Linked DNA regions of Homo sapiens: regions 2 and 3 are each linked to region 1. The links come from fine-mapping of genetic effects on gene expression. A gene starts in region 1. Each other region holds a variant in brackets. All regions are shown on one strand. Distances are from middle to middle. Region 1 holds the start of CSTF2T (cleavage stimulation factor subunit 2 tau variant). Region 2 overlaps PRKG1 (protein kinase cGMP-dependent 1). Region 3 overlaps PRKG1 (protein kinase cGMP-dependent 1).

Evidence for each region. PIP is the estimated chance that this variant, and not a neighbour inherited with it, causes the effect. A credible set is the group of variants that fine-mapping cannot tell apart.
Region 2: its variant is the best candidate, but not a certain one, in a credible set for the expression of CSTF2T in whole blood (TOPMed, PIP 0.68).
Region 3: its variant is the best candidate, but not a certain one, in a credible set for the expression of CSTF2T in whole blood (TOPMed, PIP 0.73).

Annotation. Positions count from the first base shown.
Region 1 is chr10:51,698,470-51,701,239 of GRCh38, reverse strand. It overlaps CSTF2T (cleavage stimulation factor subunit 2 tau variant), which reads left to right and starts at 1,645. Exons shown (of 1, transcript NM_015235.3): 1 at 1,645-2,770. The coding sequence starts at 1,691. The region is part of intron 3 of PRKG1 (protein kinase cGMP-dependent 1); the gene reads right to left. RefSeq lists a silencer at 517-811 and enhancers at 565-1,253, 1,378-1,957.
Region 2 is chr10:51,918,047-51,920,816 of GRCh38, reverse strand. All of the region lies in intron 5 of PRKG1 (protein kinase cGMP-dependent 1), which reads right to left. Among named protein-coding and RNA genes, the nearest start is that of CSTF2T, 220 kb to the right of the region's middle. The variant G/C (reference allele first, on the strand shown) is at 1,377.
Region 3 is chr10:51,249,575-51,252,344 of GRCh38, reverse strand. All of the region lies in intron 2 of PRKG1 (protein kinase cGMP-dependent 1), which reads right to left. Among named protein-coding and RNA genes, the nearest start is that of MIR605, 49 kb to the left of the region's middle. The variant C/T (reference allele first, on the strand shown) is at 1,218.

The DNA.
Region 1 (2,770 bases):
CTGTTTTGGAATTAAAGCACAGGCTTGGAGCAGTCCAGTCCACAGAAGTATAATGCAATCTATCCATATAATTTTAAATTTTCTAATAGCCACATTTAAAAAAGTAAAATGAAATGAATAACATTAACTTCAAAATAATTTTTTACTCAAATATATAAAAATATTACATTTCGACTTATAAAAAATATAAAATTGATGGGCTATTTTTACTTTTTTTGTATTTGATCATTAAAATCTTTCATGTATGTTACATGTATGGCACACCTCAACCAGTATGTTAAATTTTGACTGGAAATACTTTCTTTTTATTTGTTTTTATTTTTTGTCTTAGTGTTCTTCAAAATGATTTTTATTTAGAACACAATTTATTATTGCAAAAGTAGATTCTATATCCAAGTTGTTCTAAATACTAAAAAAGTTTTCCAATAGCTTACTGAACATTAGTTTTTATATTTAAATAAAAAATGAGATTTAAAATTCATTTCTTCAATCACACTAGCTTCATTTCATATATTCAATACACGTAAGGCAGTGTAGAATTGGAGCTATGCGAGACCAAGCTGGGTTAGAATCCTGACTTGGCCTCTTTCCAGCTGCTTGTCCTTGGGAATTTACCTAGCCCTCTCCAAGCTTCAGTTCTAGCTTCGAATTGCAGGCGGGGAAACACCACACTGAATATGTTTTAACTCCTACCTGCAAAGCTAACAGCAGAAGACAAACACCCGCTATTTGTTTCTCCCTTCATGGAAGTGGTGGACTCACTGCATGATATAATAAAAATCAGAACCAATCAACGTAGGGATAGTTAAGTAAATTTCTTTATTCCATACTCTGAAGCCATAAAATACTAATAACTAATTAATCACTAATTTATTTAATCACCAATTAATATTGAAATCGGTTGTTATTAAGGAAGAAAACCGTAATATTAGGAATAGCACGACGGCTGCCCGTGTGCTCAGGAAAAACCTAGAAGGGTCTGCCACCCATCCATTAACAGCGGTTATAGGAAGCAACAGAATGGGGGCAGGGCCCAGCCGGCACACGCTTCAGTTTATATTTCTTGTCAGTTAATTTCCAAAAACGTTGTTCTAAAAAGGAGATATAATACTGTTTTAGTTTAAGGGGCAAATCTCAAATGTGCTGAAACGACTACGCTTTTCCCTCAGTCTGGAATGTGATTTTAAATCTAGCTTAACTATACTATAATAAAAGGCCACATGAAAATACTTTGTCAGAACGAAAAACACGCCGCCTTAAATCCGCTTTCGGTTGGCGGTTTCCCGCCAGCGGAACGGAAGCAAAACCGCCTTTGACGTCAAGGGAAGAGTCCCCTCCCAGTTACTACGGTGAAGTCTATGCGGCCATCTTTACTGTGGTCATCTCGTACCAAGCGTGTCGTAGTGGGGCTGTTGGGGCCCCACAGAAAGTCAGCGGAACGTGAAATGGGAAAGGAATCATGCGACTCTGTAATAAGAAGCTGACAGAACCATGAAGGATCAGGGACTGAAAGCATTAGATAAGTTGTTAGTGGGATGCAGGTTCCACAGGCAAGCGGAACGATTCAAGCGAATTAGTAAAGTTTCTGCCCGGATCTTGAAAGCCGCTTCCGTTGCTCAGCGGAAGTGTCGGTCGCAAGAGGACAGACGCCTCGAAGAATCCGCTATCGGCTGTCTGCACAACCGGAATCATGTCGAGTTTGGCGGTGAGAGACCCGGCAATGGATCGATCACTGCGTTCCGTGTTCGTGGGGAACATTCCATATGAGGCAACTGAGGAGCAGTTAAAGGACATTTTCTCGGAGGTTGGTTCTGTTGTCAGTTTCCGGCTGGTATACGATAGAGAGACGGGAAAACCCAAGGGCTATGGCTTCTGCGAATACCAAGACCAGGAGACCGCGCTTAGTGCCATGCGGAACCTCAATGGGCGGGAGTTCAGTGGGAGAGCGCTTCGGGTGGACAATGCTGCCAGTGAAAAGAATAAGGAGGAGTTAAAGAGCCTTGGGCCTGCAGCGCCCATTATTGACTCACCCTATGGGGATCCCATCGATCCAGAAGATGCCCCTGAATCGATTACCAGAGCAGTAGCCAGTCTCCCCCCGGAGCAGATGTTTGAGCTGATGAAGCAGATGAAGCTCTGTGTCCAAAACAGCCACCAGGAAGCTCGAAACATGTTACTTCAAAATCCACAACTGGCTTATGCACTGTTGCAGGCACAAGTAGTGATGAGAATCATGGATCCAGAGATTGCTCTGAAAATTCTGCATCGGAAGATACATGTCACACCACTGATCCCAGGCAAATCTCAGTCTGTGTCTGTCTCTGGCCCTGGCCCTGGCCCTGGCCCTGGGCTCTGCCCAGGACCTAATGTTCTGCTGAACCAGCAGAATCCTCCAGCTCCTCAGCCTCAGCATTTGGCTAGAAGACCTGTGAAGGACATTCCTCCTCTGATGCAGACTCCTATCCAGGGTGGAATTCCAGCTCCAGGGCCAATACCAGCTGCAGTTCCCGGAGCTGGTCCTGGTTCCTTAACTCCTGGAGGAGCAATGCAGCCCCAACTTGGAATGCCAGGGGTTGGCCCAGTGCCTTTAGAGCGGGGACAAGTGCAGATGTCAGATCCTAGAGCTCCTATACCTCGCGGACCCGTGACTCCTGGTGGTCTGCCTCCTCGAGGACTGTTAGGAGATGCTCCAAATGACCCACGTGGAGGGACTTTGCTTTCAGTCACTGGAGAAGTGGAGCCCAGAGGTTATCTGGGTCCACCCCATCAG
Region 2 (2,770 bases), 220 kb before region 1:
AAGGTCTACTCATGAGAAAAAAAAGTTATGTTTAAAAGTAAAATTAGAAACAGTTCTATGAGGTAGGTATTATTACTATCCTTCTTTTCCAGAAGAAAACAAATGGAGCTTAGGGGAGTTAAGTAACTTGCTCAAGATCACATAGCTAAGGAATGATTGAACCACAATTAAAGGGTGCTGCCAATATTCAAACCCAGGCATTATAATTATATGGCGATATAAAGATAGATATATAAACACACACATATATGCATACATATATCCATATATGTAGGATCACTATCTCTATTCTGTAGACACGAAACTAAACAGAAAGAGAGAAGACATGAACACTGTAAGATTGTTAATTAGGAGATTCCCATAGGCAAGCACTAAACTGTAACTGGGAAATCGGCAAGATGGCTATCAGAGGCCTTCACATCCTTGTGGAGTGAACAGTAACTGACAACAGTTCAGCTCTCTCCCCGGGGCCTTATACTGGAAAATCAACAACTTCTACAAAAGTTTCTTTCTTCTTCAAAATATCCTTCTAAAGGTTTGGCCTTTGTTATATCTCCCTGGGATGGATAGGGAAAGGAGAAGGATGATAGAAGAAAAATGAGTCTTATTCCTTTCCCATGATCTTTCTGTCCTTAGCTTCCCACACCTTCTTTGTTTTCCACCTTGATTGTGTATCCTTGACAATCTCCTACCAGCAACCTCTACTCTACATGCCCTCATGATGAGTTCTTGTATTTCAGAAGGCATGCTCCCTGTCCTTGATGCATTTTTAATCTAGTTGTGGTAATAAAGCATCCAAATGCAAAACAGAACAATTTTGTTTCATTCATTGGGTCACTCGGGTAGCATGTATGCATTTATTGTAAGCCTACTCAGACTTCTGATTCAACAAATATTTATTGTTTATTTAATAAGTACCAGGCATAATTCTTCCACAAATCCTTGCTGTGCTGGAAACTTGGGATATATGTTAAGACATACCCTGTGCTTAGGTACTTACAGAAAACTGGGAGACAGACAAGTTCCAGGCAATATAGGATCAAGCATGCAGCTTTGTAGTACAAACTGTACAAAAGGATTAAGAAAACAACAAACAGGATAGAGTAGAATTAGTCAGGGTAAGCCACTTTAAAAAAAAAAGGTGGGGGGCTGTTCAATTTGACCTTAAAGAACATTTTTGGAAGAGGAAAGAGGAGTCAGGGAGAGACAACACTCTCATGCCTAGCAATTATTAACATCTGTAATGTAAACTGATTTGCACAAAGTCAAAGCAAAAAAAAAAATCTGCAGAATGGTATTGCACAGCAGGTCTATTTACAAGACAAATCATGTTACGTTTATTAAAATAATAATTTTTAGGTGTAAGTAATAAAAAA[G/C]AATGGTAGCTCTTCCCAGAGAGTGAAGAGGAGCTCACTTACAGAATCTCATAATAATTAAGGGAACACGTAGAACATGAGGCAAACAGAACATCCTTTCTCACAACAACTGCCATCTCCCTAAAGCCTTGGTTGGTCACGGTTTGTTCCTCATTAACATTGACTGATTTGAGGAATGCTCATTACTAAAATACTGCCTGCCCTGGTTCAGAGCCTTATCTACCAGGAAACAGACTTATACCCCCTGGCCTAAGGAACTGCATGATTCCTTTTCCGCAGGGAAGCAGTAGGTTGCCCTTGCTATGGATTCAGAGAAGTACTCTGTAGTCAAAGGTCTTGGGGAGGCCTGGAACTGAATACCCACATTATCTCCTGCACCACGTTGTTTGATAACTCTCCCTAGCACAAACAAGCTTTGTATTCTGTGGCTAAAACTGAAAGCCCAACTGATTTTCTTATCTTTAGCCTGTTACTTGTAAGCACGAGTGGGCTTCTATTCTTCATTGATTTATGCCTTAGATGCCAACTGTGTACAAGCCCGTGAGCTAGGTTTTCTGGCAGCTACAAATATGTCTCGGATTAAGAAAAAAAAATAGTTGAAAATCTTGGGTCAGGGCAATTTATCTAATTCAGACCAGTGTGCATCACTTGTCCCTGTAAAAGGAATTTGGAGCTCATCGTGATCTGCTCAGATGCTATCAAATGGCATTTTGTAAGCAGATCTCACACACATGCTGAAGGCAGGCTACTAATTTACAGTTTCACACAAATCCACTATTTGTTTACAAACCCCATAAATGACAGCAAATCACACAAATACCAAGCAGGTTTGTGTATTCTTACAGAGCAACCATTTCGAACACTTTCCATGAATGTTTTCTAGAAAGCTGATTTATTGCAGATTGGTTTCCTATTTGCAGAGCACATACATTTTAATGAATTACAAGCAGCATGGAGCAAAGCATGCATATTCTGGCAATAAAATGTCTAGAAACACTTTGTTTCGGGTCTCGTGGAAAGCATAAAATGGATCCCTGTCACAACAAATTTAAAATGCTGACTGAGAAAAAGCTAATTACTCTCACAAAAAAAAAAATAAAAAAAAAATAAGTCAAGTCGATATTTTCAGAAGGAAGTACAACCTATTTAAAAGAAAGAGTCAGGGGTGGGAGAAGTTTTTCTTTTATTAATTCCGCAAACTTTCAAGTTACAATGCAGTATAGTACTGAAAGGTACTGATTCCAGGGTCGGATTGCATAGGGTAAAATACTTCCCCATTTAATTCGCTGTGTTATCTGAGGCTCAGTCTTCCCACCTGCACATTGGGACTAGGAATAATAAGAATAGTACTATTGTTATTACTCAGATGGGATTAGACAAATGGCCTTAGCCTG
Region 3 (2,770 bases), 450 kb after region 1:
GTACTTATCTCTGTGTTGGTATGTATTTATAGTAAAGACATTTAAAAAATCAATGAAATTTATTCCAAATAACAAAAGTGTTATCACCTGAAGACTTGCAATTCCTAGTCTATTAGAAGACAAATACTATACAATAGAGCACTCAGATTCCAGACTTTGTTTTTTGTTTTTGTTTTTGTTTTGCTTCTGTCATCTGTGCGGCTCATTGTGCCAGTATATGGTCTGATCTGACATAGCTGGAGTTTTCCTCAAAAGAGAAGACACTCATGCATGTGCACACACACACACATGAATTACATTAGACTAATAACGTATATATGCAATAGTATGCAATATACTGCATATTATCTGCAACATAAATATGCAAGTAATATGCTACTTATTGCTTGAGTCTTCATTTATTACTAGCAGCAGTAAATTATGATTATATCAATGTCTCATGTTTATGGCCAATACATAACAGGACTGGAGAGAACTTTCAGCATTCGGTAGCTGATTAACTCAAGATCTAGGAGAAGCTGTTGCATTTGTGAACCACAAAACTTCCGTACACATTTTGAGTAGAGTTATGTCTTTTATTCCAAGTATTTAAGAGCCAGAGGTTGATTCTTAGCAGAATTCTATATCAGAAGTATACCAATTAGCTAGTATGTTACCTCTTCCCAAGGAGTGAGTTCTTAAGAACTTTATGGGGTAAAAAATACCTTTTAGATTATATAGTAGAAAATGACCATTTTTTTTCTGTGTTCCTAAAGATTTCTTCATATAAGTTGAACTTTATTCAATTACCATTTGATCACTTCTAATATGAGGGTCTTTAATGACCTTAATCACAATTTTATTTAAAATATGCAGATATAAAGGAACACTGCACATTCAGCTGAGTGCCTGGCAGATACAATAAGCTGTTCCAAATGGAAATGAATTACACATATCCTTCCAAGTGGTATTTCCTCTTGTAGGTCAATCCATGCTCACAAAGAGTTCATGGCTAAAAAATGCTTTTAAGAGGACTGACACCTTGTAGAGAAAGAGAAATTTACAACTTCCTGCCAAGACTTGATTCTGTCAGACTAAAGACGCAACTTGCAGATGTCCTTGCCAATTTATGAAACAGGTGCCTGGTCTGCCTTAAAGGAAAACATGACATGACTCTATATTAAAATAGGAAAAGGAAGCAATGCAATTTGTTGTTTACCATGTGTTATTATGGGAAA[C/T]CTATTATAAAAGGTGGAACACATGGGTTCATGTGTATCAGTGAAGCAGTCAGAAAAACTATCCCTTATTTAAGACATAATATCACAATAAACATTCAGGAAGTAAAATCTGTCTGTAGAGTTGGGCAGGAGGCAATACACAATAACATAAAAAGGAGGGGAAAACATCGCAGCTCTAGTTCTGTATTCTCCCAGCACCTCAGCTTTCTTATCTATAAAACAGGAATAACAGTAACACTACCAACACAGGGTGTAGGGCTGGAAGGCATAGAGAGGGCTTCACATACACTAGGAGCTCAATACCAGTTCTTCTACTTCCTCCTCCTTTTACAACTATCACTGTAATAATGTGAGTAAAGGGGTTTGCATGGCCTGTCAAAGGAGATGCATTTCTCATCCCTTCATTACTCTTGCACAATTCCATTTTGTCATAGATGGAGTTTTGCACAGTCACTTGTCAGAGATAGAAAGGCAAGTGCTTTTCTAAGCTGAAAAAGGCACAAACTTTAGAAAGAAAGGATGGTGTGTCCCTGACTGCTTTTGGAAAAGTGAATTCCAGTGAACCTCCTTGCTTCAGTAGTAAGCTGGGAGACACAACACATTCAGAGAGAAAACAGCTGACAAAATCATCCATCAAAGTCTGAGACTGGGAATTCACCAGTCTCCATGAAAGGTCTTTGCTTTTGCATGACAGGTTATTCCATCATTCTGAAACATACTTCCCACTTTCCCATGGGTTAAACTTGTTCTATGATCAGCAGTCCAATTCAGGTTTCAAGCAATCATTCACTCTTAGTTCTTTCAAATGTCATAAATTGATACGTTGCTAAACATTAGTTTCTCATAGAATGTTTCCTAGTATTTCTCAAACTGTGATCATTTTTATGCCACCAAATATTCATTTTCTTGCCAAAAGCAAGATAAATTTAGATATCTGCCTTCTCCCAAGGTATACTGAATAAATTGGTCTTTTGCCAAAAGGCTGTTTAGGGTAGGTTGGGGAGTTAAACCACAGCAACCCTGCAATGAGAGGGACAAGCCTCACTTTTCCATTCAGTAACTGTAGGCTCATGATGTCAGTAAGACTTCCAGGGTCTCAGTTTTCTCCTCTAATAAACAAAGTACCCTAGATGATAAGAATTACATAAATGCATGTGGATATGTTCTAAGCTATGAAGCATCATCTAACATATTACTTACGCTTTTAAAGGCACTTAAGCACAATATGACATTTTAGAGTTCATAATTACAAATGTGTCACCTGGAATACAAAGATGACAAATATGCCCGGCTATTAGAATGCACACTTCACAATGATAGTAGTGTTTGTCATGTTCACTGGGCTGCAGAAACACTGGAACAGTGCCTCACACATAGTAGATGCTCAATCAGTACTGTTGAATGAAAAATTGTATAGTGTCCTTTGTTAAACATAACAATTTATAATATGCTGCTACTTGCGATTATTTTAATAAATGGTCATTTTTTTCATTTATGTTCTGTCTCCTTTCTAGGGAAAGTTGAATTGTTTTGCAAATAAAATTACAAAACCT